Regions from separate parts of the Homo sapiens genome. Here region 2 is linked to region 1. The links come from fine-mapping of genetic effects on gene expression. A gene starts in region 1. The other region holds a variant in brackets. All regions are shown on one strand. Distances are between the middles of the regions.

Region 1 (9,789 bases):
ACAAAAGAACATTGGATAAAGTCAGGAGACTCTGATTCTAACTCCAGTATTGCCAATAACATGTAACGCGACTTTAAGAGTTGTGCTTCTCTGGGAGATACCTTGTTAAATGCCTGCTGTGTGGTAGGCACAGTAGCTGCAGGGGTGCAGGAGTTAACTACACAGACATGGGTCTTGCCTTCATGGCACTTACAGTCTAGTGAGATAGTTGGAGATAGACTTTACACAAATGGCCACACTGTCAGTTAATTACAGTTTTAATAAAAGCTATGAGAGTATATACAGATGGACCTACATGTGTTTGGGGAGATAATTCAGGGAAGGGTTTTCAGAGGAGATGACACTTGAGTAGTGACCTGAAGAATTAATTAGGGCAGCAAAAGGTTGCTCCCCAACCTTTTTGGCACCAGGGACCAGTTTCGTGGAAGACAATTTTTCCATGGATGGAGTTGGGGCAATGGTTTCGGGATGAAACTTCCACCTCAGATCATCAGGCATTAGTTAGATTCTTTCTCATAAGGAGCTTGCAACCTAGATCCCTCGCATGCACAGTTCACAGTAGGGTTCCCACTGCTACGAAAATCTAATGCCGTTGCTGATCTGACAGGAGGTGGAGCTCAGATGGTACTGCTCGCTTGGCAGGCTCACTTCCTGCTGTGCTGCCCGGGTTCCTAACAAGCCATAGACAGGTACCCATCCGCGGCCCTGGAGAGTTGGAGACCTCTAAATTGGAGGTAGCCAGGTGTGATGGAGGAGGATAGGAGGGAGCGCTGCAGGTGCACCTGCACAGCCCAGGATGCAAATGAGCTCAGAACACACCAGAGGATGCAAGAAGGCCAACATGGCTGGGGCCTAGGGAATGCAGGAGAGAGAGGCATGAGATGACTCAGGAGCAGCAGGCAAGCAGCCTGATCATGCTGTGGCATTGCAGATCATGAAAGATTGAGGCCTTCAATCTAAGAGTACTGGGAAGCAGGAGCCCACCAAGAGGGGCCGTGTGGGGGCAAGCCACCCTGAAGGCAGGAAATAAGGTGTGCATTGTCTATAGAGAGTTGACAATAATAAAACTGACTAGGCCAGGCGTGGTGGCTCGCACCTGTAATCCCACCATTTTACGACGTCGAGGCGGGTGGATCACCTGAGGTCAGGAGTTCGAGACCAGCCTGGCCAACCTGGTGAAACCCCGTCTCTACTAAAAATACAAAAATTAGCTGGGCATGGTGGTGGGTGCCTGTAATCCCAGCTACTCGGGAGGCTGAGGCAGGAGAATCACTTGAACCTGGGAGGTGGAGGTTGCAGTGAGCTGAGATTGCACCATTGCACTCCAGCCTGGGCAACACAGCAAGTCTCCATCTCTTTGATAAACCTGACAAAAACAAGCAATGTGGAAAGGATTCCCTATTTAATAAATGGTGCTGGGAAAACTGGCTAGCCATATGTAGAAAGCTGAAACTGGATCCCTTCCTTACACCTTATACAAAAAGTAACTCAAGATGGATTAAAGACTTAAATGTTAGACCTAAAACCATAAAAACCCTGGAAGAAAACCTAGGCAATACCATTCAGGACATAGGCATGGGCAAGGACTTCATGTCTAAAACACCAAAAGCAATGGCAACAAAAGCCAAAATTGACAAATGGGATCTAATTAAACTAAAGAGTTTCTGCACAGCAAAAGAACCTATCATCAGAGTGAACAGGCAACCTACAGAATGGGAGAAAATGTTTGCAATCTACCCATCTGGCAAAGGGCTAATATCCAGAATCTTCGAAGAACTTAATTTACAAGAAAAAAACAACCCCATCCAAAAGTGGGCAAAGGATATGAACAGACACTTCTCAAAAGAAGACATTTATGCAGCCAACAGACACATGAAAAAATGCTCATCATCACTGGCCATCAGAGAAATGCAAATCAAAACCACAATAAGATACCATCTCATGCCAGTTAGAATGGCTATCATTAAAAATTAAGGAAACAACAGATGCTGGAGAGGATGTGGAGAAACAGGAACGCTTTTATACTGTTGGTGGGAGTGTAAACTAGTTCAACCATTGTGGAAGACAGTGTGGCTATTCCTTAAGCATCCAGAACTAGAAATACCATTTGACCCAGCGATCCCATTACTGGGTATATACCCAAAGGATTATAACTCACACTACTATAAAGGCACATGCACACGTATGTTTATTGCAGCACTATTTAAAATAGCAAAGACTTGGAACCAACCCAAATGTCCATCAGCGATAGACTGGATTAATAAACTGTGGCACATATACATCATGGAATACTATGCAGCCATAAAAAAGGATGAGTTCATGTCCTTTGCAGGGACATGGATGAAGCTGCAAACCATCATTCTGAGCAAAGCATCACAAGGACAGAAAACCAAACACCACATGTTCTCACTCATAGGTGGGACTTGAACAATGAGAACACATGGACACAGGGTGGGGAACCTCACGCACCCACACCGGGGCCTGTCAGGGGGTGGGGTGCTGGGGGAGGGATAGCATTAGGAGAAATACCTAATGTAAATGACAACTTGATGGGTGCAGCAAACCAACATGGCACATACATACCTATGTAACAAACCTGCACGTTCTGCACATGTACCCTAGAACTTAAAAGTATAAAAAAAAAAACTGACTAAAATCTCATCTGCTTTTTATTTCCACCTATATATACAACCATATGTGTGTTATAAATGTTTCTGATATAAAGGATGTGTAATAAACAATACACAAGTAAAAGGCAGACACTCTTTATTGTCAGTTCTATCTACTTGACTGATTCTCACAGAAAGCTTTGCTTCTTTTTTGCCAAAGGCTTGTATCTGAATCCATCCAATGCTTGTAACTCAACCATGATGTGACTAGTGAAATTACATACCGATCCACTTTTTGCCAACAAATTTATTGTCCTTAAATCTGATATGTGATCTGTTAAACTACTTCTTACCCTTGTATAAACTCATTAAACTGCAATCTTGTTTCAGCACTAAACACATTTTTAAGTTTAATCTACATTATTAACATCTTCCCCATCACTTTCTGAAGTCTAGAGACAATCAGCAAAACAAATCGATCCCTGATTCATGATTCATAATGTTGGCTAATTTCCATGGTGTAAATACTTCGACCATGGCCCATTACAGTCTACCAACGAGACATCACTGAGTGTGGGCCGGGAAAACGCACGTGCAGTAAGCACATTATGATACGTAATACTGGAAATGGTAGGAAGTGGACAGACTTCAGAGTTATTTAGGAAGTAGAATCTTGGCGATTTGTTAGATGCCGAGGTGAAGGCAGAGTTTGGGAAACACTGGATAGTGGTGTCTTCACTATCACAGGGAGACAGGGAGTTGAAAGCAAGCAGGGAAAGGACGCATTCAGTTTTGGATGGGTTCCATTTGAGGTGCTTGTTACCAGGAGTAGCTGAATAGGAAGCTAGATAAACGGATTTGGAGCTCAGAGGAGCAAAGATTAGAGTTGCAAATTTGGGATATATTGATTTAAATGTTGACAGCAGGTTAAATCATTCAGGGAAAAATTGTGGAGTAAGAGGAAAGGTCTGAGACCTTGAAAACTCTGTTATTTGGTGGTCACCCAGAGTAGACAAGCACGCCAAGACTGGGGACAGACAGGAAAGTGGAGCACCCCCGCCACAGGAAGACGTGTTTTAAGGAGAAAGAAGGAATTTTGCTCAGATCAGTTAACACGAGAAAGGAGAGTGTCCTTTGACTTTAGTGATGTGGATGCTACTTGCGACAATTAAAAAGGCAATTTCACCGAGTGTGAAAACGAACACGTGGAGTTGAGAGACCACAAAACTGGGGGCAGGCGCCTCTTTCACCAACTTCAGCGATGGAAAGTAGAAGAGGGTGGCAGCAAGGGTACGTGGAGTAGAGAATCTTGGAATGATGAAATGCCGAGGATACGGATTCCAGTCCAGAGGGAGCAACGGATCGGATTCTGCGATACTGGAAAAACAGAAGGTGGGGGGGGGGGCTCGGTGATGGAGGGAGCAGGTGTGCAGTTTTGCCGGTGGAAAGTGGAAGTTTCTCTTTTCTCCTGAAGCAGGCGGCAAAGACCTCTGAGAGTGGGAGTGTGGTGGGTGTGCCGGGCCCCTGGATGGGAGTGGAGGTTTGGAACCAAGTGGCCCGAGCCTGCGGTGAGTGGGCCCGCCCTGGGTGGCTCTGGCCGCAGCAGGGTCGATGGGGCGGCATGGTCTCGGCGGGAAGAACACGGCTTCAGTCAGTTCTGTTCTAAGAAGCAGAAGGTGGAGATACGCATGTTTTAAACAACTCCTCCCGGACAGGAAGAAGTGGAGTTCTGGCTGTTCTGCGAGGACGCCGCAGTCCCAGCGTGGAGACCACCGCGCAGGCGAAGCGCGAGACAGGCCAGAAATAGGGTCCCGCGCGCGGACCCCGGAGGAAAAGCGAGGGCTCACTCGGTTTCCCGCAGCCAGCCTCGCCCGACCCAGCTGGGGCCGCCCCTTCCCGCCCCGGCCCCGCCTCCGCCTCAGCTCCGCGCCCACAACCCGGCTTCCTCCTCTCCCGCCGGGTCCGTCTGTCCCTGCGCCTCCTTCGCCGCCGACTAGCGCCCCCTGGCCTGACGTCACCGGCGCGTCCGCCAATGAGCTGAGGAGGGACTTGGCTGTGGCCTGAAAGTGACGGGAGCAGCAGCCAATGGTCGGGCGGAGGGGGCGGGCCGAGACTGGTGCTGGGGGGCGCCCGCGCGCGTGGGGAGCTGCGGGAGGCGCGGCGCGGGGGGGGTCGGGTGCGCGGCGGGCGGCCCCTCCCCCTGCCAGGTCCGGGCGGGTGCCTGGAGCCGCCAGAGTTTCCGCACCCGGGAGGGAGATGCGGCCGGGGCTCAGGCTCCTTGCAGGTAACGCGCGGGGCGGCCCCTGCAGGGCCGAGCGCGCCGCGGGGCGAGCGGAGTTGGACGCGGAGCGGGCGCGGGTTCCCCGCTGCCGCCGTGTCCCGAGCCCCGCACGGCGGCCCGGGCCAGAGCGGCGCTGCTGGAGGAGTTGGTTCCGGGACCTGAGCTGCGGCCCGGGCCGGGGTCACGGGGGACGCGGGCCCCTGTGTGAGCCGCACATGGGACAAAGGGCGCGGCGTGGAGGCTGCGCGCCCCGCCCGCCGCGCTCGGGCCCCTGAGCTTCTCCGCCCGGGCAGAGGTCGCCGCCCCCAGCCCCTGCCTGCACAGCCGCGCCGGCGCTCCCTCGGCCCGGGCGCACCCGGCGCCTGCGGCGCGTCCCCGGAGCGGCCATCTGGCCGCGGGGCCCCGCGCCTGGCCGCCAGCTGGCCGCGGCGCAGGCGATGGCTGGACACAGCCGGGCCGCTTGGCCGCCTGCCCTGGGTTCCGCGGCGGCTCCCCCGCCGCGCCGCGAGCGCCTGCTACTCCACGCTCGGCTGCGGAGCGGAGCGGCGCGAGCGCGGGGCCACCGGCCCGGGCGCCCGGGGCCACCGAGCCGCCGCTTCCCGGCGTGGGCTCGGAGTTTGGGGAAGCCGAGCAGGTGGCGCAGCCACTGCCCACCTCCTGCGAACTCTGCGGGGCTTCTGGTCTTGTTGATGTTGTGGCTATGGGCTGCGTGTGTGTTTTTCTTTTTTTTAAACCACACACAAAAGAAGGGAGGAGTTAGAGGAACGATCTAGCCACTATGAGTCATCCCACACTTCGCTCTTTCCCCGGGAGAGCAAATAAATGCATGGGGAGAATGTCTTGAGAAACAGTTATAGTAGGGACTGACTAGGTCCCCTCCCTGTCCCTTTTCTCTGCAGTCCTGTCTGCGCCGGGCGCGCCCCAGATGGAGTGGGGTAAAATCACGGCCAGTGCACCTAGATAGGGGAAATGGCTACAAGCTAGCAAACTGGAAACTTTCTGGGACAGTGGAACTGTGAATATCAAACCACACACATTCTTGCTATAGGCAGCCATGGCCCTCGTGCGCTACTGAATTATAAAATGGGAAGGCCGTCACAGCAGGACGATACCTTAGCCTTCAGTAGCATGTATTCAGCACTGCACGGAGGAGGGCGGTGGTGGTGGCTCGCGCCCCTGCCTTGAGGGGCCCAGGGTCTGATCAGTCAGGAAACTGCCAGGCCCAGGGATGCAGGGTCACAAACGATTGTGTTCTCTAATCTGATTCCCAGAGGCGCTGTCACCTCTCAGCGTGCATAGGATGGCTGGCTATGTGATTGAATGTTACAGATGAGGTAGAAAGGCTGGGCAGAGGTCAGCAGGCCCCTGGATGCATGGAGGGGAATATTCTTCTGTAGGTGGCTGCTGCTAATTTTTCCAAGGGGAAACATTTAGGTTTGGTCTCGCCATTCTGTTTACCGCAGTCCAGGCTGCCGTGTCAGCTGTCATTGGGCCCTCATGGTTCACAGCTGGATGACATTTGTTTTTCTGGGGTCCCTGTGTGGGGTCTTTTTGGCCTTCTCACTGATGATTAATTTGTTTTAACCTCCTGAAAACAGAGGCTCGATATGAGAAGTTTGAGAAATTGTAGGATAAAGGGACGTCTGCTTTGTTCCAGATTCAGCCCCTGTTGAGGGGCCAGTTGATTCTGTCGCAGGAGTCAGGTAGCGAGCAGAACACTGACTTCATTCCTCCTGGGTTGTGCCCTCTGCTTGGCCTGTAGCAGAGGCCACAGTGGGTCTCTCTTTTTGTTGCTTCATAAGGTGAACTAACGATCCAGCTATGGCAGAGGAGCCAGGGAGCCCAGGCAGGACATCATGTGGAGAAGAGGGACCAGAAAGTTCAACCTAGGGCCCATCTGGAAGAAAACAGAGCATCCTTTCCTATTTCATGTCCTGACTGTAAAAAATGGTGGAGGCCGGGCACGGTGGTTCACACCTGTAATCCCCATGCTTTGGAAGGCTGAGGCAGGAGGATCGCTTGAAGCCAGGAGTTTGATTCCAGCCTGGGCAACATAGTGAGACCCTGTCTCTACAAAAAAATATTTAAAATAGCCAGGCATGGTGGCATATGCCTATAGTCCCAGCTACTTGGGAGGCTGAGGTGGAAGGGTCCCTTGAGCCCAGTAAGGTGAAGCTGTGGTGAGCTATGATCATACCACTATACTCCAGCCTGGGTGGCAGAGTGAAACCCTGTTCAAAAAAAGGGGGGAAGGGATGTAGAGAGGGTGGTCCCCCGTCTCTGCCACCTTGCTCAGACAGGGCTTCTTTTAACTGAGTGCCAGGCCTGGCTCAGGTCATTGAGGAACAGAAGTCGTTTAGTGTTGGAGGAAGGAGAGTTGGGAACAAGGTCACTGTGCATGGTTGTACAGTTTGTGCCAGACACCTGACCAAGGAAGCCATGTGCCCCGGGTCTGCCCAAAAGAAGGGCCCGCCTTTCTCAGTCGCACCAGGTCACCCGATGGGCTACTGCTGGCCCTAGTGCTCAGCCCATCTGCAGGAATAAACACTGGCAACATGGGTGCGCCCGAGACAGGCAGTCAGGGACTGGGAAGCAGCGGCTAATTTCTCCAAAATCTAACAATAATGAGAACTAGTTGTTTGCATACATTTTCTCCTTTAATCCTTACCACCACCTTCTGAAGAAAGTGGTGGTGGTACTGTGTTGTGCCAGTGAGGAAATTGATTCTTAGAAAGACTAAGCAGTTCAAGGTCGTGCAGCCGGCAAGTCCAGGTTTGTCCGTCACCAGAGCCTTTGGTCTCAACCACTGGACTAGACTGATCACTTTGCCTGGCTTTCTAACAAATTGTAGCTTTTTTTTTTTTTTTTTTGCGTTTGCTAGTGAAAGGCATTTTCCAAACTGTTCCACTATGTACGTTAACAGTAAATCCCTTCAAAGAAAAGAGCATTTGTGAGTATTTTCAGTGGCAGCAAAGAAGTGGGAGGCCTTGGAGAAAGGAGAAGGAGCCCCCTGAGATAGAGAAGCAGGGGAGTCACAGCAAGGAGGGGAGAGCCAGCCAGAACTGGGAAATGATGTAGGGGCAGGGGCGTTGGAGGTAGGCCAGGTTTCCTGCTGTCCCTGCAAGAGCAGAGGAGGAGATCATCTGAGATCCACTGAGTCAGCCATCCACTTGACTTCCCAAGAGTCTGGACCTGGCCTCCTACCAGGGCATCTCGTTGATGGTGTGGTCCACAGTCTGCCTTATATATCCTGGGGCTGTGGCTTGGAACATGATTATGCTTAGAACATATTGCTTAGAACACGTTTATGTTCTAAGCAATCTGAGGTACAGTCGCTAATTTAGGAGCACAAAGTATTTCCTGATTTAGTATTCTACTTAGAAGGCCATTTGAACCTTGACAAACGTTTGTGAAATAATTTTCAAATATTTGAGCCTGAAGCAGATAATATCCAGGCTCAGTGGCACACTCCTATAGTCCCAGCTACTTGGGAGACCGAGGCAGGAGGGTTACTTGTGCCCAAAAGTTGAAGCTAGTCTGGGCAACATAGCAAGACGCCATCTCCAAAAATATATTGCATGAGCCAATAAATTCACTATTGAAACAATAAAACAGATAACGTCAAAACCGGTTACATGACCTTTTGTCAGCTCATGACTCTATTGTGCATTTAAAATTGCTATAAATTATTTGTTTTCCTTCACATTTAATTTTCTAAAATTTCTCCCCATGTTAAATCATAGTATCTTCCTAACTATTCAGTATTTGGCTTTGTTGGGCTTTGTTGTTGTTTGAGACAGGGTCTCACTCTGTTGCCCATGCTGTAGAGCCGAGGTGTGATCTCAGCTCACTGCAGCCTGGAACTCCTGGGCTCAAGCAATACTCGCACCTCTCAGTCTCCTGAGTAGCTGGGACTGCAGGCATACGCCTCCACACTCAGCTAATTTTTGTATTTTTTTTTGTAGACACGGGGTTTCACCTTGTTGCCCAGGCTGGTCTCGAACCTCTGGGCTCAAGCCATCCACCGGCCTCGGCCTCCCAAAGTGCTGGGATTACAGGCGTGAGCCATTGCAACCAGCCTTGATTTGTTGTTTTTTAAGTAGCAGGAGTAATTTCTTTAGCTGAAATGTAAGCATAGAGGTTGGGGTCTGTGTGCTAACCTGTGTTGTGTTTGCAGTTGTAATTTAGATTCGAGAAGTGGTTTATCCTTTGACTGGAAAAGAAAAGTAGCTGCAGTATTCCCCCAGCACTTGCTGAGAGCATGCCGTATGCCAGGCTGTGAGGCTCGAGAGACAAGCAGTGGAAGAGTTGCGGCCTGTTTCATCTCTGGATTGTAAATCTGAGCCTCCTTCTGGCCCCTGGAAGGGGACAGCATCACCATGGAATGGTGTGTCCCGTTGCCTGTTGGATCTGTCTCCATCTTCACTCAGACAGAAGGCTATAGAAAGATGCCTGTGACTTCAGGTGGCCTATTTGGCTGGCTTCTTATTGATTCCATAATCTGGGGTATCCACTTAGAGATCCAGAAACAAATACATCCAAACTGCCTTCCCAATCAGGGGGCTGGAATTCTCTTTCATCTCAGCAGGAAAAGAACAGGGTCCAGGTCCCTTAGTAAAGACAGGAGCCTCGGTACCAATCAACCAGCTACTAAAAGGGATTTCCCACAGAAAATCATTCTGTGCCTCTGCTTTCAGCCTTCTGGAAGAAAGTATTAGTAATAGTAGCCGGCCTCCCCTGAGCCTTCATTACAGCCAGGCAGTGCTGGGAATCCTATTTAACCCTCATGACAACTCTAGAAGGTAGGCACTCTTACCATCCCCATTTTAGTGTTGAGGAAACAGGCCCAGAGAGGTCAAGTAAGTTGCCAGAGGTACCCCAGGTCAGAACCGAGCAGTC
Region 2 (9,789 bases), 170 kb after region 1:
AAGACTGTGTGTATCTCGGGCTTGCTTCCGAAAGATGATCTCTCCTCTGGAGGGAAGAATATGGGGTTGTCAATAATACAAAAATCTAGCCTCATCCTTTGTTCTGTCTTGTTTTTGTAACTGGAAACACAAGGCTCATTCCAGTTATACTGTCCTAAGATGAGCAACTTAAAAAAAAATAGTGCCAAAAATTAAATTGAAAATTAAACACTAGGCTGGGTGCGGTGGCTCACACCTATAATCCCAGCACTTTGGGAGGCCAAGGCTGGAGGATCATGAGGTCAGGAGTTCAAGAACAGCCTGGCCTACATAGTGAAACCCCGTCTCTACTAAAAATCCAAAAAATTAGCCAGGCGTGGTGGTGGGCGCTTGTAATCCTAGCTGCTCGGGAGGCTGAGGCAGAAGAATCGCTTGAACCTGGGAGGTGGAGGTTGCAGGGAGCCGAGATCGCGCCACTGCACTCCAGCCCAGGCCACAGTGCGAGACTCTGTCTCAAGAAAAAGAAAAGAAAAGAAAGAAAATTAAACACTAGACCCAGCACTCAATAACAGAGAGGATTTATTTCTTCCCTTGTGTTGCACTGAGGTTACCTTGTAATCTGAATCACTTGTATCATAAGAGAGGCCTAAAACTGATGTGGCGGGAAAAGAGCTAGCGTCTAGGAAGCTGCCCCATTCCTAGTCTTCTAAGAATTCCGAGGTGGTCTCTGATGGGCAGGAGGGCACTGAGAAGTCCTCAGTGGGTTTCCCAAGGAGCAAGTCTGTTAATGACAGCAGCCTACCTGGAGTGTGGCGCCATAGTGCCATGTGTGCAGGTGTGCCCATGATAAAGGGGGCCCAGCCTCTGCCTGGCCCAAGTGCCCCCAAGCTGTCTAACAAGTAGGTGCATATGCCACAAAGGCAATTTGCTGGAATAAGTGGCACTTTCACTTCCACAAAGGCAAGTCCATTTACAATGAACTGTACAGAATGCACAAAATAGAACATGTGCATTCTGTTTGATCAGGAGTCTCTGTGACACATTACGACTATAATGAGTCATTTTTTTCTTTTTACTCAAGAAAAATATTATAGATCTTTGAAAGCCATGTACTCAATTATATAACAATACCAACACCTGTTAACAGTACAGGCTGTTTCTATTCTGTATCTCGAATTGTTTTATGTAATTACGAATTTATAAGGTATTTGGTAAACCGGTAAGAAAGTACCTTTTTAAAGCACTGTATAATTTGGGGTACAATGAAGTGTTCTCTTAAAAATCTATAATTAGGGCAGCATCAGCTTACAGAAAAGTAAAGGAAATGTTATAAAAACACAATTATGTAGATAAGCACCGCGGTGAGGAAGTGTACCATTTCACGACGGTGCCCAACCCTCTTCCTTTTTCTCCTCCTATCTGAAATGCTCTTTGCTCATATCAAGTTGAAGTCATGCTGTCAGAATGAATGACCTTTGGGGAAAAAAGATGGGGAGCTCTGACTTCCCATGTAAGTCCTCAGTCCCCCCCAGGTTGGAGCACCTGGGAAGTGTTCTAATGTGAGGGGCTTCAACAACAATCTTGCCTTTACAGGTTTTCTTAAATATTTTTACTATTATGAATTCACTGAAGAAACTCAAAATTCAAAATGCCTAAATGCTGGCTTTATGGGACAGAAATTCAGAAACTAAAATACAGAAAGGCAGAGTAAACGAAAGTAAAGATGACTGTGATACTGTGAGGTAGACCGTCGGCCAAGAAAACTGAAGCAGAAAGCAACTGAAACCCCCGCCGCCCCCGCCCCCACCCCCGCCCGCGAAGGTTTCTGGTCTGAAGTAGCAGAAATGAGCGCTGGTAGGGGGGTTGCCTAAGAATCTTGGGGTTTACAGTTCTGACACATCCTAGACGCTGAGCCAAGGAGGACTGCTGGCACCCTCATGCTGTGCTGTGTACAGAACACACGATGCTGAAGGTGGCCAAGTCCTGGAGAGCCATGGGAGAAATCGGGAGACAGGGCGATGTGGCCCCCGTCCTGGCAGCAGCAGAGCATGAAAGCCCAAGTCTCTGAAGCCAACAGGCCCGACTGTGACATCCCAACGAGATGGCACCTTCTGACCAAGTTACCTCCTTCTCAGACAGATGTCAACTCTAAAATCAAGCTAATACAGGTCTTGAGTAACTGTTTTGAGGATTAAATTTACGAAGATCTGCAGCGCACCTAGCAAGTGCTCGAGAGTAACTATTCACCAGGTATTATTTCCTGTGTCCTTTCCAAACATCTCTGGTTGTTCAGAATGAAAGAGTGGTGGATTTTTTTGGGGGGGATGGGGGAGGGTGGGCAGAGAAACAGGGTACCACTCTGGCACCCAGGCATGGCTCACTGCAGCCTCGACCTCCTGGGCACAAGTGATCCTCCCACGTCAGACTCCCAAGTACCTGGGACTACAGGCAGACGCCACCATGCCTGCTTAGTGTTTGAGTATGTTTTGTAGAGATGGGGTTTTGCCACATTGCCCAGGCTGGTCTTGAACTCCTGGGCTCAAGGGATCCGCCCGCCCCAGGTTCCCAGAGTGCTGGGATTACAGGCATGAGTCACTGCACCAGACTGACACTGGTGGATTTTATTTTAAAATCATGTATTGTAGGACATCTCAGATTAACTTCTAATTGTTGGAGTTCTAGCTCTATGCTCTCCATGTTTGAGAGCAAATAGATTACATTCTTCAAACATCACATCTGGCTCTAAAATCAAAGAAAGGAAGTTGATTCCGTGTTCAGAGAGGTTCCCAGGCATGCAGCGAGGGACCCCACGGTTGTCTTTTCCTTAGACAGTTAAAAGCATAGTGAATTAGAGAAACAGTTTGGTTAATTCATTCAAAAACCATTTATCGAGCATATCTGGGCAATGTAAGAATACAAAATAAACAAGAAAAAATGGCTCCTGACCTAAATACCATAATCTGGCCAGAGGGAAAAGACATTCATGAATGACACAATATAAACGTATTCAAGGATTACTAAGAATGTGATCAATATGAGGTGGGCTTTTTTATTTTAGCCCCTCTCTTACAGAAAATCTCCAGGCTGCGAGGCAGCAGAGAGTAGTGGTTTACCATTTAGGATCTGGAGTCAGAATACTGTTCCACTTACAAGCTTGGGAAAGGTCGACTTTCCATGTCTCAGATTCCTTCTTTATGAACTGTGGATCATAACAGTGCCTGCTTCTGTGGAAAGTAAGTGAATTCTTTTTTTTTTGAGACAGAGTCTCTCTCTGTGTCACCCAGGCTGGAGTGCAGTGGCATGATCTTGGCTCACTGCAGCCTCCGCCTCCCAGGTTCAAGTGATTCTCCTGCCTCAGCCTCCCGAGTAGTTGGGACTACAGGCACGTTCCACCACACCCAGCTATTTTGTATTTTTAGTAGAGATGGGGTTTCACCATGTTAGCCAGGGTGATCTCAATCTCTTGACCTCTTGATCTGCCCACCTCAGCCTCCCAAAGTGCTGGGATTACAGGTGTGAGCCACGGTGCCCGGCCAGTAAGTGAATTCTTGTATGAAGAAGCCTCAGAACACAGAAATGTCATTAAGTATTTAATAGCCATCATTACCACTAATTGCTGTCATTAAAACATGTCCACAGATGGACAGAAATCTTGGGCACAGTCACTGAGAAGACACTGGAGGCTGTCTGGGTGGGTCTCGAATTCAACACACAGGGATCTAAATCGCTCTCACGCCCGCGTACACGCTCTCAGATGCACAACAGCCATGCACCTCAACTCTTCACGCTGACTCTCTCCACTGGAAGTGTCCTCTGATCATATTCTTAGCCTAAAAATTTGGCCTTCTATTCAATTCTCATATGAACATTCTCCCGACTTGGAACGTTGTCCTATCTATGTGGATCTGACTATAATCTTTCCCCAGACTTTAAGACTATGTTGCTAATTTCTCATGGCAGAAGAATTCATATTTGAGGAACCTGAGATTTTATAAGAAAATGAGAATCAGGGGACTGAGCAAGTGAAATTTGACAGCTCTTATAAAACAATGTATTTTATGGAGTTAAAAATAGTTATAGGCTTATTGTAACAAGTCCAATGGTAAAGAGGTGTGTAAAACAATTTACTAATCCACCCTCTCACATCTAATCCCACTCCCCTTCGGTAATGTCAATTTTTATTGTATATCTTTTACTCACATGAATCTATCAAAATATAAACATATATGTATACTACAAATACATTTAGCCTGGGTAAAATGAAACACTGAAGACTGCTTATTATTGAGGATCTCACTCTGTCACTCAGGCTGGAGTGCAGTAGTGTGATCACAGCTCACTGCAGCCTCAACCTCCTCAGCCCATGTGATCCTCCCACCTCAGTCTCCCAAGTAGCTGAGACCATAGGCACATGCCACCATGCCCGGCTAATTTTTTTTTAAATTTTTTGTAAAGACAGAGTTTTGCCATGTTGCCCAGGCTGGTCTCGAACTACTAGGCTCAAGCGATCCATGCCCCTCAGCCTCCCAAAGTGTTGGGATTACAGGCATAAGCCACTGTGCCCAGCCCACAGCTCATTTAAAGAGGGAGAGATTTATGATCTTTGGCCATTCAACATCCTTGACTCACTGTAGACTTTTAAACACAAGATGTTTAATACAGAAAAAACTTTATTTTATTATAATTTCTTTTTT[G/T]GGGGGGGATGGAGTTTCGCTCTTGTTGCCCAGGCTGGAGTGCAATGGCGCAACCTCGGCTCACCACAACCTCCACCTCCTGGGTTCAAGTGATTCTCCTGCCTCAGCCTCCCGAGTAGCTGGGATTACAGGCACGCGCCACCACACCCAACTAATTTTGTATTTTTAGTAGAGACAGGGTTTCTCCATGTTGGTCAGGCTGGTCTTGAACTCCCGACCTCAGGTGATCCACCCACCTCGGCCTCCCAAAGTGTTGGGATTACAGGCGTGAGCCACTGCGCCCGGCCAGAAAGAACTTCAGGTAAATTATTTTTCCTCGTACCTGCTTAGCTAGCTTATCTTAAGCATGGCTGTGCTGAGCCTCTGTCAACAGGCAGCCTCTGCCCAGGACAACTCCAGACAACTCCCACTGGACAACTCCAGTGGGAGAGTATCCTCCACTGGCCCTGCCAGTCTCTCTTACCCACGATCCAGCCTCCCCTCCTCCCCAGGAATCAGAAGGTCCAGCTGTAAATACAGCTTTAACGCCCTAGGTCTGCGTCAGCCTCAGCTTCCACAACCTTTCCCAACGCTGCACTGAAAATTCCTGTCCTCTGCCGTCTGCTCTGCCTCCCTCTTCTTTTCTCAACTTTGTTTCCTCTTTTTCTAATTAACCCCAACAGCGTGACTTGTTATCTGCATGTAACAGACAACTCTGCCTGGCTGCAGTGACTCCACTAGGATTTTCCCTAAATCCCTGTCCTTTACTCCTAAGAGTCTGTCTCATATCCTACCATTCACACCAATCAACAGAAAGCTCTCTTAACTTTGTAAATTGTAACCACTCAGTCATTTTCAAGTCTAGAGGGCCAGAAATGCCAAAAGTAACTGCCAAAAGCTTTAGTCACAGAAGTTAAGGTCGATTCCCTGTGGTCTAATTTGTAAATGATAGCTGTCTAATCAAAAATGAGAAAGGCCTACCTAACCCTCTTACCACTGCAATTCAATAATGCTACACAGTAACTCATGAAATAAGACTAGGAGACATTTCCCTTGCATCTGTATAATCCAGAAACCAGGAATACTGAGTACCAGCCATTCTGTGCCGCTCTGCTCTCCTCTTGGTTAAAAATATACAGTACACACAGCCAGGGTGAGGTGGGATGAGAGGGTGCCCGTTCAGCAGGGACATCTACCCTGGCCTCTACCTTAGTGAAATCTGCCTGGATCAGGGGGCTGGGCCTCTGTTTCACAGGCTTAGAAGCTAGACTTCCACTATACACTCATAATGCATCACTCTGAACGAGATGGATTCACTTTTATCAAGCTCACAAGATACTGATGTGTAAAACATCTTAGGAATTTACAATCAGAAATAGGTTTGTAAAGGGAACTCACACACCTCCTAACTGTAGTGTGAGCACTAAATTATAGTCAGTGGTTCTTTGATAAATACAGAATCAGCAGAAGAGGCACTGGCTGAAGTGCTCTCCACCAAGACAGCATAAGCAGCAGTTCTCAATCACCAAAGCATCAAAACTTGCCTGGAGGGCTAGTAAAACCACAGACCGCTAGGCCCCCCACCTGAGTTTCCAATTCAGGTTTGGGTGCATTTTATTTATTTATTTATTTATTTATTTATTGAGAAGGAGTGTCCCTCTGTTGCCCAGGCTGGAGTGCAGCGGCACGATCTCAGCTCAGCCCAACCTCCGCCACCCGGGTTCAAGTGATTTTCCTGCCTCAGCCTCCCAAGTAGCTGGGATTACAGGTATGCGCCACCATGCCCGGCTAATTTTTTTGTATTTTTAGTAGAGACGGGGTTTCACTATGTTGGCCAGGCTGGCCTCAAACTCCTGACCTCGTGAGCCACCCGCCTCGGCCTCCCAAAGTGCTGGGATTACAGGCGTGAGCTGCCACACTGGGCCTGGGGTCTGCATTTCTAGTGAGTTCCCAGGAGACGCTGAAGCTGCTGGTCTGAGGACCACACTGTGGGTGAACAGAAGGCCTTCTCCATTATGGAATGGCCTTTCCCAGGGAATTTAGCTCATGTCCATGAGAAGGCTTTCTTCTCCTAGACTCAGCTGACAATGCGCTGCTGGAGAAGGCTTTTCTGATAGTAGACAATGGAGACTCAGAAGGGTGACGGGGTGGGAGGAGGGTGGATGATGAGAAATTACTTAATGGGTACCATGTACATTAGTCAGGTGATGAATATCTAAAAGCCTTGACTTCCTCTCTATTCAATCTATGCATGTCACAAATTTACACTTGTACCTCGTAAGTTTACATAGATAAAATAATTTCAAAAAGTATGTATGACTCTTGTTCTAGGTAGAAAAATCTCTGAGTGACACATTTTTTCTTTTTTTTAAGAGTCTCACTCTGTTGCTCAGGTTGGAATGCAGTGGCATGATCTTGGCGATCTTGGCTCACTGCAACCTCCGCCTCCCAGGTTCAAGCAATTGTCCTGCCTCAGCCTCCCGAGTAGCTGGGACTACAGGCACCCACCACCACACCCGGCTAATTTTTGTATTTTTAGTAGAAACGGGGTTTCACCATATTGGCCAGGCTGGTCTCAAACTCGTGACCTTGTGATCTACCCGCCTCGGCCTCCCAAAGTGCTGGGATTACAGGCGTGAGCCACTGCGCCCAGCTAAAGAAACATCTTTAAAGTATCTTTTGCATAAATTCAGTCTTGCTTATTTGATGTCTCAAGATTTGGGGAGTGTTTTGGTGTCTACAGTTACTACCCCATTAATTTTTCTCTGGCCTCAATGTTGCTGTCCCTAAATTGGATCAAATATATTCTTAGAAGGGTGAGATTAGGAAAGGAACTCGTTAATATAGACTGAAGGCCTCTCTAGTCTGTAAGTAACCTTAATATTCTGAGACTGGAGAATACCACCGTGCTCACTATCTTCTGGGAGAGAGGTTCTCTTTAAATGTTTACAGATTTCAGATGAGCTGAAACCAGCCTTAACTGCTCAATATTTGGGCAACTGGGGACTGTTCGTTTGATCTTTTGGTTTATTAAAAACTATGGGGAAGCTAACAAGTCTTAGAAAATTTAGCAAGGTAACTTTAAATGGAATGCACATGTTATTATTACATGAACTAATTAGTATAAATTCCTTGAAAAGAAACTTTAATATTAAAACATATATAAATATATCCTTAAGGAGAGTTCTGGTCTCAACAAATAATAACAAAATATAAGCGCCAGACCACCACTGCCCTTGGTCTGGTGTCTGCAAGAGGAAATGACACACTGAAGAGCTGGACTTTCATTTGACTTTCAACCGTACTACAATCTTACTAGAATGTGGAGAGCCTGGTGATTCCATCCATTTTAACACTGATCGCCTCAATCTGAAGACAGTCTCAGGGGAAAATGGACTGAGCCACAATTGTTTAGCTTTTTTCCTGGGTGGTAAGTAAGATTCCATTCTTGCCCAATTTCTTACTTCAATTAGATTCAGAGGTAGAATAGTCTAAAGATAGATTCCAAATACTATCTCTCTCATCTTTAAAAAAAGAAAAAATGAATCTGTTATTCCTTTTCCCCAAACGACAGAAGCATGATTTCATTGTATTTTCCTTCAAAACTGTGGCCAATAAAATGCTAGCACCTCCAAAAAAAGTCTCAAGCAACCTGTGAATTAGAAACACAAGAAATATTTTTTCCTTTGCTTCTCCTATGTTATTTTGAAAACTGTGAAAGAAAAAACCTTTTTAAAATGTCAAATATACTTGTCTTGCTTACATTCAGATGTATGCAAAGTTCACTGAGGCGTAGGTCTTATTTTTGTCACTAGACATAATGGGACAGATGTGCTTCTGCAACAGAGGTACGGATGCAGCATGCAGCAGTCTATCCCAGAAGCTCTGTAAACAAACACTCTTTATCCCAAGGAGGCAGGATATGAAAGGCTGGAACCGCCTTAATAAGACACTACTTGTCCCAACATAAAAGTCTGTCTTGAGGCATCCTACTACAGTCTTGCCTATTACTCTGCTGATTAAAGGAGGTTGACTAGAGCCATGTGGGCTAGAAGGAGTGAGGCCTGGACCAGAAGAAAATAATTGCAAAAGTTTCTCTGTCAAACATTAAAAGTCATCAACATCAGAATCACAAATATTTCACTAATCTCTTACATCCTGCAGATGTGCAGATAAGCCATTTCTCTCTGCCCAACACCTGAATGGAACAATGATTATCTTCCGGGATACAAAACTATCTCCTAGTTTCACCAGTTATGTGAGCGCGGATGCTGACAAAGGAGAAGTCTTATTTTTCAAACGTCTTTTGGGAACAGCAAAGGCTATGAATATTTTAGAACTAGTGAGAGAGTGCTATGCTGAGCCACGGAAGCAAACCCCTTGTGTTCCGTGTGTTGACTGCACACGCCCATAGTTTTGTGGCTTGGTGAAAAGCTTTCACTTGTCACAACTCACGGTTTTCCACAATAACGTGAATTGACATCAATGATTTTGCTTGCAATGCGGGTGGAAGTCTTGTCTTCCACTGCCAAGTTCTCAGAACCAGAGAACCAAATCAATGCCTTGTTAAAAGGTTTTGACAAGGTATGGTGGCAGAATACAAAATTTCTCTCTACCATAAACAAGCATGCTAACAAGACAGAGATGAATCATTAAACTACCTCCACCCCAGGAAATATCACTCCAAAACAGTTCAATAGGGAGGAGTTATTTTAAGCATAAAGAACATGGTTGGTAGTGGAATAAACCTACAAAGACCAGACACATGCTCCAGTGTGGATGAACCTCAGAAGTGTTATACTGAGTGGAAGAAGTCACACGCAAACAGTAGGCTAGGGGTTGCTGGGGGAGGTGGGGGAATAGGGAGTGATCACTTAATGGAAATGGGGTTTCCTTTTGGGGTGATGAATCGTCTTGGAACTGGAGAGAGATGATGGTTGTACAGCGTTGTGAACGTTAATAAATGCACTGAATTGTATGTTTTAACTTAGCTAATGGTTAATTGTGTTATGTGAATTTTAACTCAAGGAGCAAGGAAATCTATTTGGCCATATGAATTTGTAAAGCTTTCATTTGCAGGCTCTTCAGTCACTAATACGGGCGTGTTTCCAACTGATTTGTGGCTTTCCTCTTTCTC

What was found. PIP is the estimated chance that this variant, and not a neighbour inherited with it, causes the effect.
Region 2: its variant is the best candidate, but not a certain one, in a credible set for the expression of TMTC4 in whole blood (INTERVAL, PIP 0.71).

What each region holds. Positions count from the first base shown.
Region 1 is chr13:100,669,848-100,679,636 of GRCh38, reverse strand. It overlaps TMTC4 (transmembrane O-mannosyltransferase targeting cadherins 4), which reads left to right and starts at 4,842. Exons shown (of 19, transcript NM_032813.5): 1 at 4,842-4,893; 2 at 9,068-9,277. The coding sequence starts at 9,275. RefSeq lists enhancers at 4,172-4,251, 5,577-6,466 and silencers at 4,442-4,941, 4,972-5,331, 5,382-5,461.
Region 2 is chr13:100,498,380-100,508,168 of GRCh38, reverse strand. All of the region lies in intron 21 of PCCA (propionyl-CoA carboxylase subunit alpha), which reads right to left. Among named protein-coding and RNA genes, the nearest start is that of PCCA-AS1, 22 kb to the right of the region's middle. RefSeq lists an enhancer at 5,039-5,676. The variant G/T (reference allele first, on the strand shown) is at 4,674.